7 linked regions of the Homo sapiens genome follow. The protein of the gene in region 3 interacts with the protein of the main gene of each other region in a pairwise test. Each region holds a gene or a part of one and is shown on either strand. Other genes may lie near its edges.

Region 1 (3,500 bases), on a different chromosome or scaffold from region 3:
GAGCTCCTGACCTCAGGCGATCTGCCTGCCTCGGCCTCCCAAAATGCTGGGATTACAGGTGTGAGCCACTGTGCCTGGATCAAGAGTAGTTTATTGTTTATTTTTTTGAGATGGAGTCTTGCTCTGTCACCCAGGCTGGAGTGCAGTGATGCGATCTTGTCTCACTGCAAGCTCCGCCTCCCGGGTTCACACCATTCTCCTGCCTCAGCCTCCCGAGTAGCTGGGACTACAGGCGCCCGCCACCATGCCCGGCTAATTTTTTGTATTTTTAGTAGAGACGGGGTTTCACCGTGTTAGCCAGGATGGTCTCAATCTCCTGACCTCGTGATCCGCCCGCCTCGGCCTCCCAAAGTGCTGGGTTTCAGGCGTGAGCCACCACGCCCGGCCAAGAGTGGTTTCTTATGTGTGTCTCCAGGGACTTCACACACACACACACACACACACACACACACACACATGCATTTCAGATAAGTGTGTCTTGTATCTGTGTACTTCTTCCACACAAATGATAGCATGCTACAATTTTGCACCTTGCTTTTTTCACTTAAATAGGTAGCCTGGAGATTGTCCATCCTTATACACAGAGCTGTTGCATTGTCTTCTTTGAGGGGTGGGGGGATATCTTTTTACTCACTGCATCATGCACCATTGTACAGATGTATCATAATTTATCTAAACTAGTCCCCATTGATGAACTTGTATATATCACATATATAAGCTAATTTTAAAAAGGAAACTTAAATCACTAGGAAGTGGGAAACCTGTATTATCTGTCACAATAGAAGCTAACAAGGTAATTAAATACAACAAATATGTAACAATGTTAATACATTCCAGACAGATACAACTGGAGTGAAAAAGACTGAACTATGATTCAATTTCCAGAACCCAGAAAGAAAAAAGGAAGAGGAATGAAATAAAGAAATTCAGCAAAAAAAAAAAAAACACTACAACAAAATTTTGCAAGGCAAAAAAAAAAAAAAAAAAAACACCATGAGAGGGGGAAAAAAACCCAGCAAAACAAACAAATTAGGAAAGAAATATTTGCAAATAATCCAGAACTCCTAGCAGTTATTAAGGCAAAGACCAACCACACTCAGTAGAATGAGCAAAGAATACAAACAGACAAGGAAATACAAACGGCTCTTAAACATCTTTTAGATCCTGGCGCCGCGCCTTGCATTTATAATTTCAGCACTTTGGGAGGCCGAGGCAGGAGTACTGCTTGAGCCCAGGAGTTCGAGACCAGCCTGGGCAATATAGTGAGACCATGTCTCTACCAAAAATTAGCTGGGCATGGTGAGGAGCACCTGTAGTCCCAGCTACTCGGCAGGCTGAGGTGGTAGGATGGCTTGAGCCCTGGAGGCGGAGGTTGCAGTGATTCCTGATCGTGCCACTCCACTCCAGCCTGGGTGACAGAGTGAGATCCTGTCTCAAAAACCAACAAACAACCCAAACACATTTTTTAAAAGGTCAACCTCACTGATAAGAGACTGAAAATAGGCTAGGTTTGGTGGCTCATGCCTGTAATCCCAGCACTTTGGAAGGCTGAGGCAGGCAGATCATCTGAGGTCAGGAGTTCGAGGCCAGTCTGGCCGACATGGTGAAACCCTGTCTCTACTAAAAATATAAAAATTAGCTGGGCATCATGGCTCATGCCTATAATCCCAGCACTTTGGAAGGCTGAAGCAGGCAGATCACCTGAGGTCAGGAGTTCAAGACCAGCTTGGCCAACATGGCCAAACCCCGTCTCTACTAAAAATACAAAAATTAGCCGGGCTTGGTGGTGGGCGCCTGTAATCCCAGCTACTCGGGAGTCTAAGGCCAGAGAATTGCTTGAACCCAGGAGGCAGAGGTTGCAGTGAGTCAAGATCATGCCACTACACTCCAGGCTGGGTGACAGAGTGAGACTCTGTCTCAAAAAAAAAAAAAAAAGAGAGAGAGAGAAATGAAAATAACACTACATTGACCTATCATTTTGGTCTATTCGATTGGGGCACATCCAGAAGTGTGTTAAATCACCATGTTGGGAGGCTGTGGGAACAGGAACCTTCCAGGAGGCATGCTGTTGCAGGCAGGAAGGGTGTGACCTCTCCGGAAGGCATTTGGCAATCTACATCACAATCCCAAATGCATGTATCCTCCCACCCAGTAGTCCCACTCCTGGAAACATATCGTACAGATGCACTTGGTGGCATTTCTTGCAGCAGGGTGCGCAACAGCAAAGGAATAGAAAACCCGAAGTGTCTGTCAACAAAGGGACTGACCACACAGTCACACCACAGCTGCATGGTGGAATACTATAGAAGCCATAAAGAAAGAAGCAATTGCACTCCACACACTGAGACAAAAGGACCCCCAAGATTCATTTTTTAAGTGTAAAAGAAAAAGTGCAGAAGGATGTGGCTAGACTATATATCTTGGGGAGACTATATAAACTGGGAGAGAGAGGAATCTAGAGCCACATTTGCATAGGTCTCCTTAAAGAAAGTCTTAAAATGGGATATAGAAAACTGAGAGTGGGCATGAAGGAGTCAACTTTAACCAAAAGGGAACAGAGATTTTTCACTGTACTCCTTCCCTGTCTATTTTATTCTTGAGCATTGTAAATACATTACCTATTAAAGAAATTAGGGGCCGGGTGCGGTGGCTCACGCCTGTAATCCCAGCACTCTGGGAGGCCGAGGCGGGCGGATCACCTGAGGTCAGGAGTTTGAGACCAGCCTGATCAACATGGTGAAACCCTGTCTCCACTAAAAATACAAAAATTAGTCAGGCCATGGTGGTGCGTGCCTGTAATCCCAGCTACTTAAGAGGCTGAGGCAGGAGAATCACTTGAACTTGGGAGGCAGAGGTTGCAGTGAGCTGAGGTCACGTCACTGCACTCCAGCCTGGGTGACAGAGCAAGACTCTGCCTCAAACAAACAAAATAAAAATAAAGAAAAAGAAATTAGGTAATAAAGGTATGAAAAAGATGGACACAGCTTGCTGTGCACTGATACAGAATATCCCTAGGTGTATTGCCCTGGGGAAAAGCATGGCTTGGCACATGCCCAGACAGCACCTATCTGTGGTTAAGTGAGGATGTGGGTTTTATGTAGAAATATGCATCCACTCACCCTGGAATGAGACACAAGGCATGTGGTTGCCTGGGGTGAGGGCAGCTGTGGGGCGTGGTCAGTCAGGGATGAGAGAGATTACATTTTCTTGATTACCCTTTCTACTATTTGAGTGCTTTGTATTATGTCTCTGTAATTTTTTTTTCAAAGAATAAAACAATTCCATCAGTAGAGAAACAGCTAAATGAGCAGAGGCTGCCGGGACACTACGGGTTACTCCACAACAGTTTACAAGGAAGGAAGACAAGTCTCAAAACATGAAGAGTGGCCAGGCACGGTGGCTCATGCCTGTAATCCCAGCACTTTGGGAGGCAGAGACAGGCAGATCACCTGAGGTCAAGAGTTCAAGACCAGCCTGGCCAACATGGTGAAGCCCCGTCT
Region 2 (2,432 bases), on a different chromosome or scaffold from region 3:
CCCTTCTTCCCTCTCCCATTTCTTCTCTTTTCCCCTCTTCCTGTTCTCTTTTTCTCGCTGTCCTCTCTGTGGCCACCCTCCTTTTTCTCACTTCTGCTCTCCCTGTCCGGCTCTTCTCTCTCCTCTCTCCCTTCTAGCAGATTCTCTGGCTGTTTCCTCTCCTCTCCCTCTGTGCTCCTCCCTCCTCCTCTCTCCTCCCAGCCACTATCCTCTCTCTTCACCCTCTTCTCTTTCTGTCTCATGGTCTCCTCCTAGCTCTTTTCCTTCCCAGTTCCTAGCTCTCTCCTTTCTCTTTCCTCTTCTCTGGCTGGAGCTCCCCGCTCCTCCATCCCTCCCTCTCCCGGGGCCCCCTCTCCCCCACCCTCTTCTCCCCCAACACCCTCTCCCCCACCCACTTCTCCCTAGGACGCTCCCTCCTTCACCCGTTTCTCTGCTTCCCTCTTCTCCGAGCTCACCAGCCATGGCACCCACCCTCTCCCTCTCTTCCTTCCTGTCCCTTTTTTCACCCCCTCGTCTTTCTTTCCTCTTCTGTTTTTTCTTCTCTTTCCACTTCTGACCCCCTACACTGTTTCCTTCTTTCTCCCTCTTCCTCTCTCCCCTCCTGCTCTGGCCATCTTTTCTTTTTTTTTTTTTTTTTTTTTTTGAGACGGAGTCTCGCTCTGTCGCCCAGGCTGGAGTGCAGTGGCGCAATCTCGGCTCACTGCAAGCTCCGCCTCCAGGGTTCACGCCATTCTCCTGCCTCAGCCTCCCGAGTAGCTGGGACTACAGGCGCCTGCCACCATGCCCTGCTAATTTTTTTTTTGTATTTTTAGTAGAGACAGGGTTTCACCGTGTTAGCCAGGACGGTCTCGATCTCCTCACCTCGTGATCTGCCTGCCTTGGCCTCCCAAAGTGCTGGGATTACAGGCGTGAGCCACCGTGCCCGGCTCTTTCCTCCTGCTTTTTTCCTACACTCTCTCCTCCCTCCTCTCCTCCCTCTTTCTCCTGTTTGATTTCCACCTCTTTTCTCTCCTCTCTCCTCTGAATCTGCCTCTTCCTCTTCTCACCTCCCTCTTCCTTCCCTGTCTCTCCCCCTTGGGTCTCTCTTCCTTCCCTCTCTCTGGTTTCTCTGTCTCTGCCCTGTCCTTTCCTTTCCCTCCTCTCTGGACCTGTCTCCTCTCCTGGCTCTCTCTCCTTCAAGCTCTCACTCCCACTGGCCTCCCTCCCGGGAGCCCCGTCTCCTCCGTCTCCAGGTGGCCCCTGCATCCCTGCCTGGTGGGCCTTTGCCTCCCTCTCCTGTTCCTGCCTTGCCTGCTCCCAGGTTTCCAGGTCCTGACCAGGAGGCAGGAGTCCATACCGAGGCCCAAACAGGCTAGCCCTGAGCAGGGCCCCCAAGCCTGAGGCCCAGGAGTGGACAGACCTTTGTGACACCCATTCTCTCTTCCTTTTCCATCTGTCCGGAACTCTGGACACTGCCTGGAGGAATCAGGCCTGCCGTAGGCCCAGGAAGGCGGAAACAAAGACGACGCTCAGAGACAGGAAGCAACTTGCCTAAAGATACACAGCACGTAAGGAGCAGGGACAGGACTGGGTGGGGCCCCTGGGGTTGGCCAGGAGTGGGCTCCTGAATCTGCCGATCCCTGGCCTCCTATCTGAGCTCAGTGAGCAGCGGATGACGCCTTTCTGCTCCATTCCGCTCCCTTCCCAACTCTTCCTCTGACAACATGAAGCACCTCAGCACTGAGGGGACCTCACCTGAATTCCATTTCAGAAATGAGAAAATTGGTGCCCAATGTTTCTGAAGACCAGCAACTGCTAAGACAGAGACTTCGAGGGAACCCGACCTTGCCTGAAGGACCAACAGCGCCCCCTGCAGGACACTTCCCTCCATTGAGAGAAGCCACAGGCGCCGGCCTGAGGCATTCTGAGTGCGTGGAATCCTCTATTACCACCTCCTGGCAAAGAACGGAGCTGCAACCCAGCTATATGAGACACCGAGAATGATCTCAACAAAAAGGAACAGTGACCAGAATGCCTGGGGGAGGAACAGGGGATACTGGGTGGAAGGAGGGGAGAGGGAGAAGTTGTAATATTTTGTAAAAATGAACATTTTTACTCCTAATCAATATACAAACATCATGCTCAGCAAACTTCTTGGTATGAAACTTCTGAACTTCACACATTTTCAAGTCATTCTATGGGTGGGTGGATTGGCTCCCATGGAAATGCAACTGGGACTGCACATGGGAAACAAAGGAAAATGGAATTTGGTTCACACAAACCTGTTTGGGAGATTGCATTTCCAGGAAATGGGCCAAATTGAGTTTGTTTCCTTTGTAACAACATTGTTGTGCCTTGCTGACTGGAAGGTGGGTACAAATAAAGGAGGATGGACTGACAGCTGAAGAGGCACCAGTAATTAGCCCCTAATCCTTACCAGGGAGTCTCTCTGA
Region 3 (2,165 bases):
TGCATGGGTGCCATAGATAAACTGTAATAAAGCAAAAATATGTCATGCACTTATGCAAAAGAGAATCATCGGACTCCACCAAAACTCCCAGGTTATTGCAGTTCCCAAACTCTCCCTGACCTGGTGAACCCTTCAAGGTTAAATACACGTGGCAGATGGGGCTAAGGACCAGTATCATCTCCTGGCTGAATGCGTGAGCCCTTTGCTCACCTTTGTCTTTGTCCAGGCTCAGCCATGCTCATGTCTCCCTCCTTCTCCTCTCAGCCCTGACCCCACTATCCCTCACTCCCATTCATCTGTGCCTGTCACATTCTCTTCTTCACCTCCAGCTGGCCCTTGATTTCAAGACATTGACAGAATCAGAGATTGAGTGAAGAAATTATGAAGACTAGAAAAAGAGGATTAGCACAAGGTAATGAGGCATTTTTCAGGAGCTGAGATGAGCTTTCTGGAGAGTCAAAGTCTCTACCCACAGTTTTTCTGGATTATTCCCTGAGCACATGTTGGATATGCATTGGGTGACATAGTCTGTATTAGTACACACAGCCCTGAGGTTCCTGGGCACCTGCTTTACAGGTTTCTATTGTTCAACAAACCCTTGAAGTTTGTTGTTATATACAGATTGTTATCTCCCTTTATAAACAACAATCAAACTGCTCCTCGTTTTATAAACCAGCCGAGACTTCCTGCTCCCCAGTGGAAGGCGTGTTTGTTGAAGTCACTCCATCCACTGTCTCCCTGTAGAAAACTGGACATTGTTTGCAGAAGCGCTTGGTGATGTGCTTTCGGAAGAACACCGAGAGATACCTTCTGAACTTCTCCCCAACGAAGGCATAGATGATGGGATTGATGCAGCAGTGAGTCATCCCAAGAGTCTCTGTCACCTGCGTGGCTTGGTCCAGTTGACTGGTGCTTTCACAGTTACTCAGGCCGAAGAATTCCTGGAAGGTGTTCAGGAGAATGACAATATTATAGGGAGTCCAGAAGAGAAAGTAAACAATCATGATGGTGAAGATGACTCTCACTGCCCTATGCCTCTTCTTCTCGTTTCGACACCGAAGCAGGGTTTTCAGGATTCCCGAGTAGCAGATGACCATGATGAGCAGCGGCAGGACCAGCCCCAAAATGTTCCTCATTATTGTGTGGAAATTATTCCATCCTCGTGGAAAATAAGGGCCACAGACATAAACAGAATCTTCTTTCTGGCATTTAGTAAAGATGATTCCTGGGACAGAAGCAAACACAGCCACCAACCAGGTGATCACACTTGTCACCACCCCAAAGGTGACCGTCCTGGCTTTTAAAGCAAACACAGCATGGACAATAGCCAGGTATCTATCGATTGTCAGGAGGATGATGAAGAAGATTCCGCCAAAATAACCGATGTGATACAGCCCTGTGAATAATTTGCACATTGCATTCCCAAAGACCCACTCATTTGCAGCAGAGTGAGCCCACAATGGGAGAGTAATAAGAAAAAGCAGATCAGAGATGGCCAGGTTGAGCAGGTAAATGTCAGTCAAGCACTTCAGCTTTTTGCAGTTTATTAAGATGAGGACGACCAGCATGTTGCCCACAAAACCAAAGATGAACACCAGCGAGTAGAGCGGAGGCAGGAGTTGGGCCCCAATTTGCTTCACGTCAAATTTATGACAGGGAGCACCGTAATCATAATCAAAAAAGGTGGTGACTTCTTCACCGCTCTCGTTGGTATTTCTGATAAACCGAGAACGAGATGTGGACAGCATGTTGTGGATGTACTGGGGAAATGCGTCCTTGTTCAATCCACTTTCTCTGTTCTGTAAACAAAGAACAAAATGATGACCACACAACACAAACACCGCAATCCATGATCTTCCAAATAGTCTGGCACCACATAAGCAACTTCCCAGTCTTTGCCCTCTCCCTTGCAGCCATCTCCCTGAAAGCATGTGTGCCAGTTCCTGATTTGCCTTTCATTCCTAGTGGCAGACATCAATGATTTACCCAACAGCCATTTTCCGACACCCTTTATCTTCCCCAGCAAACCAGATTCTCATTTTCAGGCTAAAAGCGCTGGGCGTTTGTTTTCTCTGGCTCCTTTGCAGGTGGTGCATAGGTCTGTGACTCATTGCTGGACCATAATATGAAAAGGGAGTCTGCTGGGGGCTTCTGAGAAAGCTCTT
Region 4 (3,500 bases), on a different chromosome or scaffold from region 3:
TTTTGGTAGAGACAGGGTTTCACCATGTTGCCCAGGCTGGCTTTGAACTCCTGGACTCGAGTGATCTGCCTGCCTTGGCCTCTCAAATTGCTGGGATTACAGGTGTGAGCCACTCTGCCCAGTCTGGGTGGATCTCTTGAGCTCAGGAGTTTGAGACCAGCCTGCACAACATGCCAAAACCCTGTCTCTACAAACAAATACAAAAAACTAGCCAGGCATGGTGGCACACGCCTGTAGTCCCAGCTACCTGGGAGGCTGAGGTGGGAGAATCACCTGAGCCCAGGAAGTCAAGACTGCAGTGAGCCGTGACTGCACCACTGCCCTTCCGCCTGGATGACGGAAGGAGATCTTGTTTCAAAACAAACAAACAAATAATAAAAAAGTGAGTATTTTAAATTTAATCTAGTATCGTTAAGGAAAAGAGAGAAGTAAGAAAAGGGGAAGCAGAAAAGGTCGGGAGACCTCGGCACGTGGCGCAGAGCTGAACACCTACTTGCCACCAATGGTCGTCATCTCCTTGGGGCTTCTTGGAAATAATGCCAGTTCTGAACCACAGGTTCCCATGGATGTCCAGGGCCCAGAGAGTCTGCTGATCCCCGAGCGTTATGCAGACGGGTTCTAAAGCTTGCCTTTCGCTGAAAATAAGGAGGAGAACAGGGGGGTCAGCACCCATAGGCAGAGTGCCCAGTGTGTCTGGACTGCGGACATCCAGGGTCTCCCGGCAGGCGTGGCTGGGAGAAGAGACGTGGCCCTGGAGCGGATCAGCAGGTGCCAGGGAAGGAAGTTTGGGTCTGAGTTAAATTACTGTGCAAGAGATATGGTTCAAGTGGGTGGCAGCTTTTGAAAGACACACTGATGACCCAGAATGGCTGGGAACACTCTTAAGAGAGAAAATAACCTAAGAAAAAAGCGAGTAGGCACAAAAGGAATCCAAGGCCCCTGAGCGCCTCCATCTCTCTACTCCTTCCCCTACCAATCCAAGGCCCCTGAGTGCCTCCATCTCTCTACTCCTTCCCCCGCCAATCCAAGGCCCCTGAGTGCCTCCATCTCTCTACTCCTTCCCCCGCCAATCCAAGGCCCCTGAGCGCCTCCATCTCTCTACTCCCTCCCTCACCAAGGGAATGACTGTAAACTCCCCCGATGTGCCAGGCTATTCTGTGCAGCTGGACCTAGGCAGACACTGCCCTCTTTGCTGGAGACGCCCTCCCCCTCCTTCCATATGGGGAAGTCCTCGTCAGCTTCAAGGCTTAGCTGTTGGTCCACTCTGCATGCTGCCTTCCTGATCTCTGCATGGAGTCCATGGTTCCCTCAGTGCTGCATGCTCCACACTCCTGTTTAGGGCCATCTGTGCTAATGGGTGTCCATCCATGCACGGGGCCCCCATGAGACTTGGAACTGATGAGAGCAGGGCCAGTCTCAGCCCTCTTGGCGCACCCAGCCCCTAGCACCATTCTGGCTTTTTGTTGTTGTTGCTTTTTTTTGTCTGTCTGTTTTTTGAGATGGAGTCTTGCTCTGTCACCCAGGCTGGAGTGCAATGGTGCGATCTCAGCTCTCTGCAACTTCCGCCTCCCAGGTTCAAGTGATTCTCCTGCCTCAGCCTCCTGAGATGCCCGGTTAATTTTTGTATTTTTAATAGAGACGGGATTTCACTATGTTGGTCAGTCTGGTCTCGAACTCTTGACCTCGTGATCCGCCTGCCTTGGCCTTCCAAAGTGTTGGGATTACAGGCGTGAGCCACCACACCTGGACCATTCTGGCTCTTAATAGGTATTCACTGAAAGTTTATTGGCTTGCTAAATTCAAACCAAGAATATCCTAATCTAGTTTTTCAAAGGACTATTAATACTTCCATACTAGTAAAATGATCTGATGGCAATTCTATAACTAACATCTTGAATGGTAAAAAAAAAAATAGCTTAATAAATTACAGTTCAGAGATCGGGCCAGGCATAGTGGCTCATGTCTGTAATCCCAGCACTTTGGGAGGCCAAGGCAGGAGAATTGCTTGAGCCCAAGAGTTCGAGATGAGTCTGGGCAACATGATGAAAACCCAAAACTCATCTCTACAAAAAATACAAAAATTAGCTGGGCATGGTGGCATGCATCTGTAGTCCCAGCTACTCAGGAGGCTGAGGCAGGAGGATCACCTGAGCCCGGAGGTCAAGGCTGCAGTGAGCCGTGATCGTGGCACTGCACCCCAGCCTGGGTGACAGAGTGAGAACCTGTATCAAAAAAAAAAAAAAAAGCTACAGTTCAGAGATCAACTTCGATTAGCATGAAAATAAAGAAAAATATTTGGACCTAAGCCGTCACAGACACTAAACCAGAACTACCTGACGGTGGGCAATTCTGAATAGAGACCGTCATGACAGACTCATGACGCTGTGATGCTCAGGGCTGCGCAGAGGGCGGCAGCATTTTTAAAAAGCGAGCTCTGACTCAACGTCCAGTTTGCCGGTCAGAATTAGGCAGAGATTCAAGCTTAGCCTATAGCCATGGAGGCTGCAGGTGCTGCCTCCCAGGAACGGCCTCATGGTGCCTTGTGGTGTCAAGTGGACAAGAACGAAGGGTAGGACAAGCACGATGTGAAAGGAGTCTCTGGCCCGCCAGTACCTGACAATGTCACACTTCCACTGCTCGCCTTCCGGACAGAAGCTGCTCACGCCCTCCCGGTACAGGAGGGCCCTCTGCTCTGTCAGCGCCCACACCACATTGTTCCGGGCTGTGATCTGGGACAGCGGGTAGGGACAGTCCACCTTTACGGCTCTGGCACAAGGGCGATCCACGCTCAGACCTGCCAGGAAGATGGGAAGAAGCCCCAAAGACACACAGTCAGAACTCCACACCTCATTTTGACTTGGTTATTGGCTTATTTTTCCTTTTTTGGTATTTTGCTATATTCTTTTATGATGAGTGCTTTAAAAAAAAACTTTAATTAATTAATTAATTAAAAATATAGACGGGGCCTTTCTACGTTGCCCAGGCTGATCTCAAACTCCTGGGCTCAAGAGATCCTCCCACCTCAGCCTCCCAAAGTGCTGGGATTACAGGCAGGAGCTGCCCTGTCCGGCCGCTTTTTTGTTGTCAAGTTTAATCAACATAAAGTGGTTAAATTCTGCCTAAATGTAACATCTATCTGAAAACAGTTTTAGACACTCTTTGAAAACTGAACAATTCAGAATTATCTGGTGTCCCAATGTAGCTTAAGAAGTTCTAAGAGAAGAACACAAAAGCCAAGAGCAGGAGAGTGGCCAGATGGAGGCCCAAAGGCTGCAGGGCAGAGCAGCTCTTCCAGGCAGAGGGCTGCAGCGCTGCTGGAGTTGGCAGGGACCTGAGGCCTGCAGTCGTTCCTGCAGAGAGCTCCAGCACGGCGGCTCCTCTCTGCTCTGACTGGGTGCGAGGTTCCACTAATAAAATGAAACCCCGAATTTCCCAGATGAAATCTGAGGTCTGTCAAACTGCAAGGCAGTGGCAGGCCAAAGCTCAGGGTCCCTGGCTCC
Region 5 (3,500 bases), on a different chromosome or scaffold from region 3:
CAAAAAACAAAAGCGAAACCAAAAACAGAGCAGTGTGTATATTGTATGCTACCTTTTGGGTTAAAAAAAAAAATTGGCTGGGGGTAGGGGGAGAATATACACATCTATTTAAAAGAATGCACAAGAGGCTAGGCACGGTGGCTCACATCTATAATCTCAGCTTGAGGCCAGGAGTTCGAGACCAGCCTGGCCAACATGGCAAAACCCTGTCTCTACTAAAAATACAAAAATTAGCTGGGCATGGTGGTGCGTGCCTGTAGTCCCAACTACTTGGGAGGCTGAGGGACAAGAATCACTTTATCTGGGAGATGAAGTGAGCCGAGATGGCGCCACTGCACTCCAGCCTGGGCGACAGAGCAGACTCTGTCTCAAAAAAAAAAAAAAACAAAAAACAAAAAACAAGAATGTACAAGAAAGGTAACATTCTAACCCCGGGGGGGCCTGGGTGACTGGGGACAGGGTGAAAGGGAGATTTCATTTTATAGCCTTTGGCACTTTTTTGAATTCTGAATGGTGTGAATGGAATCACCTATTCAAAATAATTTTTACAAGCCCTGTGATTTCATATTACTTAGAACAAAGCAATTTAAATAAAAACATTAAGTGGAAAATAATACAAATGATCCATGGATCTGGCAAAAATTATGTTGGTAGAGCATGAGTGAATGACACTGGCTATGTGAGGTAAGTGCTATTATCACAGGCCCTGTTTTACTGAGGTCTGCATCTGATGTTCCAGGGGTCTGGAGCCTCTGAAGTCATCCCTGGGGCCCCACTGAGCAGCTGCTCGACTGTAGCCTCTGTCAATGGGGGCTGCTGGAGGCCAAGGACATACCCCTCCGCTGGACCTTGTCATCAGCAGGTCGAGGTCAAACTCGACTTTAGAAAACCTGCCTACCCACTCCCTGGGTCATATCCACATCCACCCAGGCAGCTGCTGCACTAGGACTGACTAAAATACCAGTGACCCATGCTCTAGGTCTCATGCTAAGTAGAGCTGGGGCCCCGGATGAAACTGGACCCAGTCCTGACACCAAGGAAGGAGTTTCCAGTACAGTGGGGTGGGGGCAGTGGGGAGGCAGATGAAGATGAGAGGCTAGTGTGGTCTGGGCTTCAACAGGGGGCTGGTATGAGGCACTGTGAGAACCCTGGAGGGAAAGATTTCCAGTTTTGCCTGGGTACAAAAAAAGATGAGTTCCCAGGAGGTGACATTGGAGCTGGGCTGTGAAGGACACACAGAGAGTCTGCCAAGTGGGAAAGCAGTGGCAAGGCTACATTCCAGGTGGACAGAACAGTATGTGCAAGGAGAAGAAATGGGGACCAGTCAGATTAAGAAACAGCGTGCTCAGTGTGGCTCAGTGCTAGGTGTAGGGGGAGGGACATGGCCCCTGCTCCTCAGTAGGCACAAGACACTGCGACCAATCTCAGATTCATGCTGCCACTCTGCTGCGCCCACTATAGCCGGCTTGATCATTGCTGGGCTTGGAAGCAGACCCACGTTTAAATGCAGCAAGCTGCCTCCTTTCACCTTGGAGTTGGATACAAGGCAGCCCTGCTCTGGGCCTTGGTTTCCTCACCTAGAAAACGGGGATGAAAGTTCCTTCCTTAAAGGGTTGCTGTTACGTTTTCTATCAGTATCCATCATGAAGCCTGGCAGAATTCCCTCCACAAGTGTTTGCTGGATCGGTGAAGAATAGCAAGCTACCCTCGATCGGGCAGCCTCAGCACCATCTGCCCCCACCAGCCAGTGGCTAGAACTGGAACATGGCAATGAAGTCCATTCACTCAACGTGTATTTATTTATTCTGGTGTCAAGCTGATGAACAGTTGGTGATGACTTAGAGAAGGGTACTAGCCCCATAGAGCTTGTGATTTTCTTGTGGGAGCCTTTTTTACTGGTGGGGAGCAATGTACAGCCCAGAGTCTGGGATCCCCAGCAGCCCATCAGCACTCCCTGGGGATGAGACTACTTTCTAGAACATTCCATTCTCTTCCAGGCCTTTGCTCTTGCTATGTCCTCTGCAGTCTCTAGCTTATTACCCATCTGCCACTCAGTTTGGGAACTCCTTAAGAATAGAACCAGGGGCAGGACGCGGTGATCCCAGAACTTTGGGAGGCCAAGGTGGGCGGATCATTTGAGCTCAGGAGTTCAAGACCTGCCTGGGCAATATGGTGAAACCAGGTCTCTACTAAAATTACACACACACACACACAAAAAAAAAAAAAAAAAAAAAAAAACAGCTGGATATGGTGGCACACATCTGTATCACCTGAGCCTGGGAGGCAGAAGTTGCAGTGAGCCAAGATCATGCCACTTCACTCCAGCCTCGGCAACAGAGTGAGATAAAAAAAAGGAATGGAACCTGGGTCATACCGTGTCTGCAGCCAGAGTGACGAGAGTAGGGAACAGCACATGCTAATTGCCAAACAAAGAAACCTGCCACTTTTCAATTTGGCTTTTGGGCAAAGCTGGCTCTGTGAGTATCTGTTGTGCCAGACCAGTGTTCATCCTTAGCCATTTATCAAACCCCTGACGAGTGCTGGAACATCAGAGCTCTGAGAGGTAAATACAGCACCCCACAAAACCCTCCACTCCAAGCCCACAGGGCTGTCAAGGAAGGACCTCTGAAGTCAGGCAGACTGAGTTCAAATCCTGACTCTCCTAGGAGAGTCATGGCCTCCCAGCTTGGCCAGCAACTGGGCTCAGGGTCCAGCACAGAGAAGCATTTCTCATGTCCCCACCCCTCACCCTCCCTATCCCACCGCTGGGGGTCTCACGACCCACAAGAGCCCTCCCTCTCCCAGGAAGCCATGGATGAGGTGTTAAGATTCAGGACCTCTCCCCCAACGCTCGGATGCCAGATGGCCCTGGCCACATTGTATAACTTGCCAAACACTGTGGCCTTTTGACCCATGTCAGTGTGTCAGCATTGCGCTCCAGCCCCAGGGTTGGCCTGCAGCAGGTTCTCAATCTATATTGGCACAGGAAGGGCACGTGGCTACTGCTACTCAGAGGCAGGGTATTCCTGGCAAGAGGAGGGTCCCAGGGCTGGCAGACTCCAGATGTTGCTCCATCTTGTCCTCTTCCCACAGCATCCCACATGGGTTCCCCAGGTGCAGGGAAGCAGGGGACGCAGGGCTTTCCAACTGCTTAGTCCACGGCTCAAAGGAGTGGGGGAGGGGTTTACCTGAATCCATGACAGCTCCCTTTTAATTTGTTTTGTTGTGTTTCTTACTCATTTAAATGAACTTCTGGGCATTAAAAGAAAGAACCTCAAGGCTGGGCGCGGTGGCTTACACCTATAATCCCAGCACTCTGGTAGGCCGAGGCGGGCGGATTGGTTAAGGCCAGGAGTTCCAGACCAGCTTGGCCAACACAGCAAAACCCTGTCTCTACTAAAAATAGAAAAGTTGGAGCCGGGCACGGTGGCTCACCCCTGTAATCCCAGCACTTTGGGAGGCAAGGCGGGCAGATCACGAGGTCAGGAGATCGAGACCAT
Region 6 (3,500 bases), about 80 Mb from region 3:
AAGAATTCTTAACTAGCAAAATTATCTTTTCAAAGTAAAGGAGAAATTAAGAGATTTTCAGATAAACAGACACAGAGCATTCGTCCCCAGCACACCTGCCCTAAAGGAAACACGAAAGGGAGTCTTTAAGGCCGAATTAGGATCCTAGACACTAGCTAGAATCCACACAGAGGAAGGAAGAGCATCGGCAAAGGTAACCACCTAGACAGATTTTTTTTTTTAAGTATAAACACATTTTTGTTAGTAACTCTTTTTACTCTTATCCAATTTAAAGACAACCACATAAATCAAGTTGGAATTAAGTTGTTATTGATCCAAACACGATTATTATAAACCAAGGTGCTGATTGTAATCCTCAGGGCAACTGCTAAGAAAAAAAAATATAAAAGAAATAACAAGTGAATAAAAGTGATACACTAGGAAAGATCTACTTAGTACAAAACAATGCAGTAATGGGGAAACAGGGAAAAAAGACATTAGACAGACAGAAAACAAATAGCAAAATGGCAGACATAAATCCCATCTTATCAATTATTACATTAAGTATAAATGGATAGGTTGGAAGTAAAAGGATTTAAATAAATATACCATGCAAACAATAACCAAAAGATAACTGGAGTGGCTTTAATACTATTAATAATATCAGGCAAAACAGACATAAAAACAAGAATTCTTACTACAGACAAAGAAGGATATTTGATAATGATAAAAGGGTCAATCTATCAAGAAGCTATAACAATTACAAACGTACATATGCCTAACAACAAAGCCCCCAAATACATAAAAGTGGCAGAACTGAAGGAAGAAAAAGACAATTCAATAATAATAGTTGGACATACCTCACTTCCAACAATTGATAATACAATTTGACAGAATTTCAACAAAAGAAAGAGGACTTCAACAACATTATAAACCAATTAGATCAAACACATCTATACAAAACACTCCGCGCAACAATAGCAGAATACTCAATCTTATCAAGTGCACATGGAACATTTTGCAGGCTTGATCTATCTTAGGAAAAATAACTTCAATAATTTAAGACTGAAATCATACAAAATATGTTTTCCAACCACAACAAAATAAAATTAGAAATCAATAACAGAAGGACATTTAGGAAATTTATAAATATGCGGAAATTAAACAACTTTTTTTTTTTTTTTTGAGATAGGGTCTTATTCTGGCACCCAGGCTGGAGTGCAATGGCATGATCACAGCTCACTGCAGCTTAGACCTCTGGGGCTCATGTAATCCTCCCTTCTCAGCCCCCCAAGTAGCTGGGACTACAGGTGTGTGCCACCATGCCCAGCTAAATTATTTTTTAAAGTTTTGTAGAGATGGGATATCACTGTGTTGCTCAGGCTGGTCTCAAACTCCTGAGCTCAAGTGATCTGCTCACCTCGGCCTCCCAAAGTGCTAGGATTACAGGCATGAGCCACCATGCCCCAGCCCATACTCTTAAATAAGTAATGGGTCAAAGACAAAAATCACAAGATAAATTAGAAATTTCTTTGAGATGAATGAAAATGAAAATACAACATGCCAAAAAATCATGGCATGTGTTAATGTAGTGCTTAGAGGGAAGTTTATAGCTATAACTATCAATTTCTTTAAAAAGAAATGAACAAATTAATAAATCAATTTTCCACCTTAAGATAAAGAGGAGCAAACTAAACCCAAAAAAGTAGAAGGCAGGAATTAATATAGATTAGACTGGTAATAAATGAAAGAGAATTGTAAAAAAAAATAAAAAAAAAAAAAGGCCAGCAAAACCAAAAGTTGGGTCCTTGAAGAGATCGACAAAACTGACAATCCTTTATGTAGACTGATGAAGAAAAAAAGACAGAAGACTCAAATAGTTAAATTAGGAATGAAAGAGGAAACATTACAACCAAAACTAAACATAACTATAAGAGAATATATGATTAACTGTAAGCCAACAAATTGGAAAAGCCACCAGTCAGAATGGCTATTATTAAAAAGTCAAAAAATAACAGATGCTGGTGAGGTTGTAGACAAAAGGGAATGCTTATACACTGCTTGTGGGAATGTAAATTAGTTCAGCCATTGTGGAAAGCAGTGGAGGTGATTTCTCAAAGAACTTAAAACAGAAGTACCATTCAACCCAGCAATCCCATTATTGGGTGTATACCCAAAGAAATATACATCATTCTACCATAAAGACACACGCACAGGTATGTTCATCGCAGCACTATTCACAATAGCAAAGACACAAAATCAGCCTAATGCCTGTCAACAGAAGACTGAATAAAGAATATGTAGTACATATGCCCATGGAACACTATGCAGCCATGAAAAAACAAGATCATGTCATCTGCAGCAACATGGATGGAACTGGAGGCCATAATCCTAAACAACCTAATGCAGAAACAGAAACCCAATACCATGTTTCACTTATAAGTGAGAGCCAAACATTGGGTACACATGCATATAAAGAAGGGAACAACAGACACCAGGGCCTACTTGAGAACAGAGGGTGAGAGGAGAAAGAGGATCAAAAAAACTACCTATCTGGCCAGATGCAGTGGCTCATGCCTGTAATCCCAGCACTTTGGGAGGCCGAGGCAAGCAGATTGCTTGAGCTCAGGAGTTGAAGACCAGCTTAGGCAAGATGGTGAAACCCTCTACAAAAAATACAAAAATTAGCCAGTCATGGTGGAGTGTACCTGTAGTCCCAGCTACTCAGGAGGCTGAGGCAGGTGGCGCTTGAGCGTGGGAGGCGGAGGTTGCAGTGAGCCGAGATTGCACCACTGCACTCCAGCCTGGGTGGCAGAACAAGACCCTGTCTCAGAAAAAAAACAAAAACAAACAAACAAAATCCAAAAAACTACTTATTAGGTACTATGTTTATTACCTGGGTGACAAAATCATCTGTACACCAAACCCCCATGATACCTAATTTATAACAAACCTGCACATGTACCCCTGAACCTAAACGTTAAAAAATAAATAAAGCTAAAAAAATTAGAAAACCTAGATGAAATGTACAAATTCCTAGAAACACAAACTAGTAATACTGACTCGTGAAGAAATAAAAAATATTAATAGATCTACAGATAAAGAGATTGAATTAGTAATCAAAAAACTTCCCACAAAGAAAAGCTTAACACCAGATGGCTTCACTAGAGAAGTCTACCAAGCATTTAAAAAAAAATAACACAAATCCTTCATAAACTCTCAACAACAAATTGGAGAAGGGAACACTTCCCAACCGCTTGTATGAGACCAGTGTAAAGACAACCCAAGAAAGCTACAGACCAATGTGTGTTATGAATACAGACACAAAATCCTCAGCAGAATACTAATAAACTCAAGCCACTAGTACATACAAAGACTTTTACAATATAACCAAGTGGGATTTATTTCAGGAATGCAAAGTTGGTTCAATATATGAAAATCAATGTAATACACCAAATTAATAGAATAATGGGGAGAAAACATAGCTCAACAGACACAGAAAAAGCATTTGGCAACAACTA
Region 7 (3,500 bases), on a different chromosome or scaffold from region 3:
ATAAAACTTGGAATAAATACTACATTTTATCAAATCTAAGATACCACTGGTTGTAATTTGCACAATTATTTTATGAAACACTAAAGAAAAAATGCTGCCAAATAAACTATGACCACCCATCAATAACAAGATGCCTTCCAATTTCAGAGATGAGAAAATGTCAAAACATATGTTTTAGAGTGGACAAATGATGGCACTTTATATTGTGGCATTTTAATCAGATCCTTTCTTGCGAGTACCCCCATAAAAACACCCCATGCGCTATAAATCTGAGGTGTTTGCAATACGTATATGTGACTGCTTTTCTTCTTTTTTTTTTTTTTTTTTTTTTGAGACAGAGTCTGGCTCTGTCACCCAAGCTGGAAGTGCAGTGGGGTGATCTTGGCTCACTGCAAGCTCTGCCACCCGGGTTCAAGCAATTCTCTGCCTCAGTCTCCCGAGTAGCTGGGCTTACAGGCACCCGCCACCATGCCTGGCTAATTTTTGTATTTTTAATAGAGATGGGGTTTCATCATCTTGGCCAGGCTGGTCTTGAACTCCTGACCTCATGATCCACCCCCGCCTCGGCCTCCCAAAGTGCTGGGATTATAGGTGTGAGCCAACATGCCTGGCTGTGACTCCTTTTCTCTAGTCTCCTATTCCTGGTTCTACTGCCCCCCTACTAAAGACAAAACACATGACGAAACTTAACTTTAAAAGCCTTTGCAGAGACACTGTCCCTTTTGACCTTCACCGTGACCTCATGGGGAAGAGAGGACAGAAGGAGACCGACCCTATTAAGTTTGGGGCCTTGACCAAGGTCGCACAGCCAGGGATACAGCAGGGCCCTCTGATCCCCAGGTGGTCTTTTCAACCAGAGTACATGGCCCCACTTCCAGCTGAATGTGCCGTAAAGGCATCAGATGTCCCAAAAGTTTCTCTCCAACAGTCCAAGGTCATCATCACCTCAGGCTTTAGCAAATCCCAGAGCAGGGATCACGGGGAAAGATGGTGCATTTTCAGGTACACCTCCTCTTCCCAGTTCAAAGGACCCTGCCGCACAGGCCACATGTCAGGAGGCGCCCGAGAGTGGAGGGTCTGCCAGAGCCCCTCTGGGGCTCTGGGTGGCAGCTGGGGCCAGTCCCTGAGTTTTCATCACTCACTTCCTATTACCACATCTGACACAAGATCCTGGGTGCAAACAGCCAGCTGGAGCTGGAACGTCAGGTTGTGCAGATCCAGAATTCACTGTCACCCTTCAGGCGACATGAACAGAGAATCCTGGAGCCCCACGCAGAACTGGAAGGACCTGAAGCCTGGCCGAGGGAGCCTGTGCTTTGTAACAGACTCATCCAAACCCGGCGCTGACCTGGCAGGAGGGTGGGGCAGTTCCCTGATGGCTCTGCTGCCCTTGATCCTCACTCAGCCCTGGCCCCAAGCTAATTAATTTCAAAGATGATCACTTAAAAATACTCAAGGTGAGAAAGAAAATGGGCATCCTCTTCAGAGGATGACGAAAGCCCTCAGTATCTAAAGCAACCAGTCTGAAGCCAACAAGGTTCATAGCCTTGGCCCAACAGAAGCCCTGAGGGAGCTGAGCATCTGAGCCTGGGTTTTTGTTTTTGTTTTTTGTTTTGTGAGCACAATGAGGGTAGCGAGGCTGACCTCATGGGTCTGTGGTGAAGAGCAAAGAGAACAGCTATTGGTACAGGCCAGGTAGATACACTTAATGAACACAATCTCATAGCAGTGTCATGTGTGGGTCCTGCCCACATGGAGGGCTTCATAAGCCCCTAGCCCATTCCAGGGACACACACACACACACTATACACACATATATGCACACACGCACATATACACACTCACGCACATATACACACTCACACGTACGCACACGCATGCTCACAGCCTAGGCGATATGTCTTTACCTGTCTGCTTCTGACACCAGGGCAATGCGGCCATAGTCCCAGAATCTTCTTCTTATAATAGAAAACACCAAGATTAAGAACTAAAAACAGAAAAGAAACCAAGTAAAAGCATATTGGATGGCTTCTCATTAGAAGACACAGCGGTCTCAGGGGTAAAGCCCACCTGCCCGCACTCAGCAGGGCTAGAAGGAAAACACCCAGGCCCAGAGAGGGCACTGAAGTGCCCAAGGCCATGCAGCTCAGTAGCCCGGATGCTTTGCTCACCCCCTTCACCAGGCTCCTGTCACCTGTGCCCACGCCACCAAGGCTGCCAGCGCTGACGCCAAGCTTGCCTGGAGCCTGCCTAGTTCTGCACGTCAGCCCTGTCTCTTGCTCTCAAGGCAGCGGTAACACCACAAGGCCCAGTCTCGGGCCCTGCTCTGCCTTCAGTGGCCCCGAGCAGGAGGGTAAGGTCTGGCCCCAGAGCAGCCCCAGGAACCAGCATCCTTCTTCACTTTACAGAAAATTTTTTTCTTTCGGCTCACTGCAACTTCCCCTCCCGGGTTCAAGCAATTCTTGTGCCTCAGCCTCCAGAGTAGCTGGGACTACAGGTGCCCGCCACCACACCCAGCTAATTTTTGTATTTTAGTAGAGACAGGGTTTCACCATATTGGTCAGGCTGGTCTCGAACTCCTGACCTCAGGTGATCCACCTGCCTCAGCCTCCCAAAGTGCTGGGATTACAGGCGTGAGCCACCATGCTGGCCAGAAAATTTCATTTTAAATTACAGAACCAAGGTAGCAGAGCCTCCTCAGGCTGAGCCAGAAACGGTCAGTTTTTTCCTCTGAGTTTGATTCCCCTGAAGGCAGGCCCCGCAGGCCCTGCAATCCCCCAGCAGAGAGCATGCATGCAGGCAGCAAGGCACCACGAGAACCTGTGCTCGGGCTGGCTTGGCCTCCGTAAGCTGGGACACCTCAGCAAGCTTGTGTCCAATGGCAACCTCAGGGCTGGACTAAGCCGCTTAGCTCTAGACATCTGTACACTCTAGACTGTCCTCACTCCCCACAGTCCACCTTGGCAGGCTCCATGCCATGTTCCTGCCTCTCTTCCCTCCCTAGACAGGGTCCCTCTCTTTGAGGTTCAGGGAGGTAGAGAAATACATCTTAGTAAGCACATCCCTGCCTGCTCTGATCAGAAACGGGGGTTTTGAAGGTAGGCTTTGTTTTCCTAAAGGAAATCCAGAAGACCTGAACCCCAGAGGCACTGAGTTCTCGTGGAATTTTCTTCAGGTGAATCAGGAAGTTGGTGACATATTTTCAAAGGCAGGTGAGTCATGTTGTAGGAAAACCACGAAACCTGCTCAGCAGGTGCCTGCCCTCTCTGTCCACAGCGGCTGCCGCCCTGGCCTGTGCAGTGCAGACACTTCCCACAAACCCATGCTCTCCAGGGCCCTCTGGCTCTTATGTGTCCCCCCTCCCCCACCCCCAAAACTTACTGCAATAAAAATCCACCCCTGGCCGGGCACCATGGCTCACTCCTGTAATCCCAGCACTTTGGGAGGCCAAGGCTGGTGAATCGCTTGAGCTCAGGAGTTTGAGACCAGCCTAGGCAACA

The links.
Region 1: the proteins of CCR2 (region 3) and PLLP interact in a two-hybrid assay, tested with the Homo sapiens proteins (one large-scale study listed by BioGRID and IntAct).
Region 2: the proteins of CCR2 (region 3) and EMC10 interact in a two-hybrid assay, tested with the Homo sapiens proteins (one large-scale study listed by BioGRID and IntAct).
Region 4: the proteins of CCR2 (region 3) and TECPR2 interact in a two-hybrid assay, tested with the Homo sapiens proteins (one large-scale study listed by BioGRID and IntAct).
Region 5: the proteins of CCR2 (region 3) and SLC2A1 interact in a two-hybrid assay, tested with the Homo sapiens proteins (one large-scale study listed by BioGRID and IntAct).
Region 6: the proteins of CCR2 (region 3) and SLC41A3 interact in a two-hybrid assay, tested with the Homo sapiens proteins (one large-scale study listed by BioGRID and IntAct).
Region 7: the proteins of CCR2 (region 3) and TMEM63A interact in a two-hybrid assay, tested with the Homo sapiens proteins (one large-scale study listed by BioGRID and IntAct).

What each region holds. Positions count from the first base shown.
Region 1 is NC_000016.10:57,274,673-57,278,172, forward strand, and holds part of PLLP (plasmolipin), read right to left. Parts: intron 1-3,500. UniProt on the Homo sapiens protein: Main component of the myelin sheath that plays an important role in myelin membrane biogenesis and myelination. Plays an essential function in apical endocytosis. Regulates epithelial development through the regulation of apical endocytosis.
Region 2 is NC_000019.10:50,486,507-50,488,938, reverse strand, and holds part of EMC10 (ER membrane protein complex subunit 10 isoform 2 precursor), read right to left. Parts: 3' UTR 1-2,432. UniProt on the Homo sapiens protein: Part of the endoplasmic reticulum membrane protein complex (EMC) that enables the energy-independent insertion into endoplasmic reticulum membranes of newly synthesized membrane proteins.
Region 3 is NC_000003.12:46,357,111-46,359,275, reverse strand, and holds part of CCR2 (C-C chemokine receptor type 2), read right to left. Parts: intron 1,800-2,165; 5' UTR 1,749-1,799; coding exon 666-1,748; 3' UTR 1-665. UniProt on the Homo sapiens protein: Key functional receptor for CCL2 but can also bind CCL7, and CCL12. Also transduces signaling mediated by CCL13.
Region 4 is NC_000014.9:102,442,941-102,446,440, reverse strand, and holds part of TECPR2 (tectonin beta-propeller repeat-containing protein 2), read right to left. Parts: intron 2,795-3,500; coding exon 2,614-2,794; intron 636-2,613; coding exon 494-635; intron 1-493. UniProt on the Homo sapiens protein: Probably plays a role as positive regulator of autophagy.
Region 5 is NC_000001.11:42,945,369-42,948,868, forward strand, and holds part of SLC2A1 (solute carrier family 2, facilitated glucose transporter member 1), read right to left. Parts: intron 1-3,500. UniProt on the Homo sapiens protein: Facilitative glucose transporter, which is responsible for constitutive or basal glucose uptake. Has a very broad substrate specificity; can transport a wide range of aldoses including both pentoses and hexoses.
Region 6 is NC_000003.12:126,070,625-126,074,124, forward strand, and holds part of SLC41A3 (solute carrier family 41 member 3), read right to left. Parts: intron 1-3,500. UniProt on the Homo sapiens protein: Na(+)/Mg(2+) ion exchanger that acts as a predominant Mg(2+) efflux system at the mitochondrial inner membrane.
Region 7 is NC_000001.11:225,872,381-225,875,880, forward strand, and holds part of TMEM63A (mechanosensitive cation channel TMEM63A), read right to left. Parts: intron 1,988-3,500; coding exon 1,908-1,987; intron 1-1,907. UniProt on the Homo sapiens protein: Mechanosensitive cation channel with low conductance and high activation threshold. In contrast to TMEM63B, does not show phospholipid scramblase activity. Acts as a regulator of lysosomal morphology by mediating lysosomal mechanosensitivity.